Regions from separate parts of the Homo sapiens genome. Here region 2 is linked to region 1. Evidence: fine-mapped expression QTL. A gene starts in region 1. The other region holds a variant in brackets. All regions are shown on one strand. Distances are from middle to middle.

Region 1 (3,006 bases):
TCTCTAAAACTCTGAACTCCTCCTGGGCTCAAGCGATCCTCCCGCCTCGGCCTCCCAAAATGCTGGGATGACAGGTGCAAACCACCTCTCCTGGCCCTATGATTGCTATTTAATAGAGAAATGAAAAGGAGACTCAAAGAGGGAAAGTGACTTGCCCAGGGTGACACAGCAAAGAAACGAGGGAAGCTAGAATTGAAGGAGTGGAGGAGTATTGGGGGAGGGGGGCAGACTCCTGGGACTTTCTTTTCTTTTCTTTTCTTTTTTTTTTTTTTTTTTTTTGAGACAGAGTCTCCCTCTGTCCCCCAGGCTGGAGTGCAGTGGCGAGATCTGGGCTTACTGCAACCTCCGCCTCCCGGGTTCAAGCGATTCTCCTGTCTCAGCCTCCTGAGTATCAGGGACTACAGGCGCGCGCCACCACCCCTGGGTAATTTTTTTTTTTTTTTTTTTTTTGTATTTTTAGTATAGACAGGGTTTCACCATGTTGGCCAGGCTTGACTCCTGGAACCTTTCAACCAAAGCAGCCTGGGGCCTGAGCGGCCACCTCCAAAGCCTGTTTCCCCACGTCACCTCCCTGTACTCACTACTTTTGGCTCTGGAGGTGTAACTCGGAGGGGGCTCCCAGGTCCCCAAGAGGCTCCCACGAGCAGTTCAAGTCGCCCAAGGGTCCAACTCCGTAGCACTGCAGTGGCCCGGCGCTGCCTGGAGAGGGAGTCAGAGGGTCTCAGGAAAGGGGGTCGAATCCCCCCCTTCCGCCTGCACACCCCAGAACTTGGACTTCTGACAATTGCAAGGTGGGGGGGCTTAGGGAAATGAGCAGCAGGAAGGGAGGCGCTAGGCACCCCTGCCCGGGCTCCGTGCAAACCCCCCCTTTCCCTGTGCTCGCCACATCCTGTTAACCACCCAGAGAGCTCCCCCACCCCGCCCCGGGGCTCCGGTTCGACCTCGCTGCCGCCCATTCCCCAGTGTCGCCGGGTCCCTGCCCCGGGAGGAGCCGAGTGGCGCCTGCACCTCTACCGTTCGCTCTGCATACGCGTGGCTTATCCTGGAGCACTGGCGCCTTCGCGGGGAGCGCAGCGGCAGCGCCCGGGACACGAGCTCCCTCCAGCACTCACCCTGGGGACGCGTCCGCTGGAAAAGCACCCACAACAGAGGCAGCAGCGCCAGCTTGGGCAGCGGCCACAGCCAGAAAGGGGCGCCCCTGCCTCCCCGCATGGCGTCCCTCGGGAGCCCCGAGTCCGGCCCAGCCTTGCCGGGTCCGCGCGGCCGCGCTGCTCCTCTTCGAGCTCTGGGTACAGCGCCCGAGGCGGCAACGGGAAGCCGAACCACCCCGGCAGGCCGCCTCCGCACCTTTCGCTCAGGGTCCCCGCCCCTTCCCCGCGACGGAAAGTCCCCGGCTGGGGCTGCTTGAGGGGGAGTGGGGAGGCGGCCTGGGCGTCTGGGGGTGGGGGCCTCCGAGGGGTGGTACCGCGTACCGCGCATCCCCGAAACCTGTCCTACGCCCAACAACCATACACACACACACACACTCTCTGCCAAAGTCTTCGAATTTTTATTATTGGAGTTTGGGAAGATTCGAATGTGCCCAGAGCTCTCCTAGGGGGGCCACCTGCCACCTTCTCTGGGGTCCACAGCCTTGGAACTCTGGCAGGGGAGTTGGAGGGAGAGGGGATGGAAAGCAGGGCAAAGGAAGCGTGCGTGCAAAGGCTGGACTGAGACAGAGGCTTGATTTTAGCTGGTCAGGGGACAATGGCCACAGTTTGGACTGGGAAGGGGGCAGGGGTCTCTGTGTGGCCAGCCTAGGTAGAGTAGGGACCCAGTTGTGGCAGTGGAGTGTGTAGGCCAGGCAAACGCATGGTTAGGGCTGGGGAGAGGTCAGGGGTCAGGATGGGGGGGTCCCCACTTGACCAGGCAGGGGCACAGCTTCCTTAGGGGCCAGGGTCATGATAGGCTGGTCAAAGGGCAGGGTTGGATAGGTGGTGTCGGGAGACTGTGCCTGAGCCCACAGTGCCTCTGTGACTTGTAGATGAATGAATGAATGTGTGAGGCTCGAAAGACAGGTGCCCAGCCAGACACTAGTTGAGTGGATGGCAGGACTGGGGCATTGGTCCTGGTGCCCACGGCTGCCCAGCCCTCAAACTAGCAAAGGCTACTGATTTCACTTTTGCTACACCCCCACTTGCAGCAGCTGCTGGAAAGGCCAGCCAGGACATCTCGGCTGCCCCGAAGAACCCCAGGGGTTCCTTGCCAGCTGGGTCGCCCCCTGTAAAAGGCCTGGGGTGACTTGGTCAGGGCCAGCCACTCGCTGGACCCCATGGCCTCATCCAGCTCGCCTGCCAGACTGTCTTCATCAGCATCTGCATCCGGGAAGGTATCTCCTGCAAAAGATGAACAGAGTTAGTGATCAGGGCTCAGCTGCTGCTGCACCCACAGTCATGGCTCCTGGCCAGTCTAGCTCTGATCTTGTGACAACAGTCATAGACATAGTTCAGAGTTTTTATTCCACCCAGTCCTGGGTTCAAATTCTGGCTCTGCCAGAGTAGGTGGGATTACAGGTGTCTGCCAGCAGGCCTGGCTGATTTTTGTATTGTTATAGAGATGGGGTTCACCATGTTGTTCAGGCTGGTCGCAAACTCCTGACCTCAAGTGATGTGCCCACCTCAGCCACCCAAAGTGCTGGGATTACAGGCGTGAGCCACCGCACCCAGCCCTGTCATTTATTTCTCCTTACTCTTTATTAATTGAGGACCTGGTACATTTGGGAGCTGGGCTGACTGAGCATGAATCCAGCTTCTCTAATCGTGAGCAAGTAAATTTACTTCTTGGAGCCTCAATGTTCTTTTCTGCAAAGTGGAAAAAAATAATTACTCCAACCTTCTCAAGTTTTATAAGGAGTTAATATTCATTAAAAAAAAAAACTTAGAACAATGTCTGGAACATGATGAGCACTCAAAAATGACTATTGAGTCCGGGCACGGTGTCTCACACCTGTAATCCCAGCACTTCCAG
Region 2 (2,500 bases), 39 kb after region 1:
CTACAGGCAGCCCCGCCACCATCCCAGCCGCCACAGGCCCCGCCACAAGCCCAGCCCCAGCCGCCACCGCCACCACCCCCAGCGGCACCCCAGCCCCCGCAGCCACCCACCGCTGCTGCCACCCCTCAGCCCCAATATGTCACCGAGCTGCAGAGCCCCCAGCCCCAGGCACAGCCACCGGGTGGCCAGAAGCAGTACGTGACGGAGCTCCCGGCTGTACCCGCACCCTCGCAGCCAACCGGTGCACCCACCCCTTCGCCTGCACCCCAGCAGTACATCGTGGTCACTGTCTCTGGTAAGTGCCGCGCTCGTGTGTCCTGAAAACTCCTCTCAGAGTTGTTCAGATAGCCTAGACCCTGGGTGTGAAGGCACAGGGCTGCCATGCCCCCCAAGGTTTCTGGATGGGACTTGGGGTATCACTAGGGCAGGGGTGCTTAAGCCATGCAAGGAGGCCTCTGTCCCCCCAAACTCCTTCCCACCAGAGCAGCTCTTAGAGCTTCTTTTTTTGGTTTTATTTTATTTTTTGAGACAGAGTCTCATTCTGTTGCCCAGGCTGGAGTGCAGTGGCACAATCACAGCTCACAGCAGCCTCAACCCTCCAGGCTCAAGCAATCCTTCCACCTCAGCCTCCCAAGTAGCTGAGACCACAGGTGCCCACCACCATGCCTGGCTAATTTTTAAAATTTTTTGTAGCTATGGGATCTTCCCATGTTGCTCAGGCAGGTCTCAAACTCCTGGCCTCAAATGATCCTCCCGGCCTCAAATGATCCTCCCACCTCGGTCTCCTGAGTTGCTGAGACCACAGGTGTGCAGCTGTGCCCAGCTAATTTTTTTGTTTTTTTGTATTTTTTGTAGAGATGAGGTCTCGCCATATTGCCTAGGCTGGTCTCAAACTCCTGGACTCAAGCGATCCTCCTGCCATAGCCTCCCAAAGTGCTGGGAATACAGGCATGAGTCACCATGCTCAGCCTCTTAGAGCTGTTCTGACCTCTCTTTGCAAATAAGATGTCACTGGAAGAAGGGTTTGGGCAGTGGCATCAAAGTTTGCATGCACCTGTGGGAGACAGAGGCCTGGCCTGGCTACACACCAGTCTTTTGGCCTC[C/T]CTGCTCTGGTTTCCTCATTTGTGATGGGATCATCATAGCTCCTCTCTCTCAGGGGACGCATGCGAGGGTCTCATAGCCAGGATGGCCTTGAGTGGGCACTTCAGGGAGGTCAGCTGGGGGTGAGGGCCTGGACATGTCACCTCCCCTTCCTAGAGCAGCCGCCCTGTTGTTTTGGGCAGGATCCAGGGACTGGCCCTTTTCTTTATTTTTGCTTTTCTTTCTCATGACATAAGCTAAGGCACGCAGGACCTGTGTTGAGAGCAGGCCATCTTGGACAGACCTGTTGCCCTCTGAGCATTTCCCACAGTAAACATAGTGACGATGTTTTGACTGGTTTAGGGTCTGCCTGAGGGCTGGGTCTCTGTCTCGACTGACTCAGTGCTCTGGTGGGAATGGCAGCACAGCCTGGGCATTAGGCTAGATTCGTGTGTTTTTTTGGTTTAGAGATGGGGTCTTGCTATGCTGTCCAGACTGACCTCGAACTCCTGGGCTCAAGTGATTCTCCTGCCTCAGCCTTGTAGGTAGCTGGGACTACAGGCGCCTGCCACTGTGCACAGCTAGTGTGTTTTTAATGTGCTCTGTGGTGGACGGAGGCCTCAGTGGGAGCCCGGATCAAAGCTGGCCCTGGTCCTTCTCAGAGTGGGAATGGAAGGGGTGAGATCATCAGGGCATCCTGAGGGGCTGTGGAAGGGGTGGGTCAAGATGGGATTGGGGACCATCAGGTCATAAAGAGTCATCAAAACATGTAGCAATTGGCCGGGTGTGGTGGCTCACACCTATAACCCCAGCACTTTGGGAGGCCGAGGCAGGTGGATCACTTGAGGTCAGGAGTTCGAGACCAGCCTGGCCAACATGGTGAGACCCCATCTATACTAAAAATATAAAAATTAGCTGGGCGTGGTGGCGCGAACCTGTAATGCCAGCTACTCAGGAAGCTGAGGCAGGAAAAATCACTTGAACCCGGAGGCAGAGGTTGCAGTGAGCTGAGATCGTGCCACTGCGCTCCAGCCTGGGTAACGGAGCGAGAATCCATCTCAAAAAAAAAGTAATGAAAAGTGTAGCAATTGGCCCCGTTGTGGAACAAAGCAGATGGGGCTGGAGCCCTGGGCAGTGTCCCAGAGGCTTCTGGCAGTGTCTGCGTGGGAGGTCCAGGGTCTCTGGCAGAGGTTTGGGGCGGGAACATGCAGGGACTCAGGGCAGTGACTCTTTACTATATGGACGGAGTGGAGGTGTCCGCATGAGCGCCACACTTAGTGCCCCCCCGCCTGTGTAGACACAGCCCTGCCCTGGTTGAGGTCGGGCTGCAGTCATGGGCAGGGTCTTCAGGCCACAAACCTCTGGTGGGTTCTCAGCACCCCTCAGAAATCCTGCAGCATTTCCTTAACAGTGAACTTCA

What was found. PIP is the estimated chance that this variant, and not a neighbour inherited with it, causes the effect.
Region 2: its variant is fine-mapped to the expression of IL27RA in blood mononuclear cells (TOPMed, PIP 0.97).

What each region holds. Positions count from the first base shown.
Region 1 is chr19:14,030,079-14,033,084 of GRCh38, reverse strand. IL27RA (interleukin 27 receptor subunit alpha) reads right to left here and starts at 1,323. Exons shown (of 14, transcript NM_004843.4): 1 at 1,113-1,323; 2 at 582-699. The coding sequence starts at 1,212. RLN3 (relaxin 3) reads right to left here. Exons shown (of 2, transcript NM_080864.4): 2 at 1,534-2,375. The coding sequence ends at 2,137. RefSeq lists silencers at 1,105-1,154, 1,165-1,284, 1,295-1,344, 1,415-1,544.
Region 2 is chr19:13,991,320-13,993,819 of GRCh38, reverse strand. It overlaps RFX1 (regulatory factor X1), which reads left to right. Exons shown (of 21, transcript NM_002918.5): 2 at 1-295. Among named protein-coding and RNA genes, the nearest start is that of RFX1, 14 kb to the left of the region's middle. The variant C/T (reference allele first, on the strand shown) is at 1,104.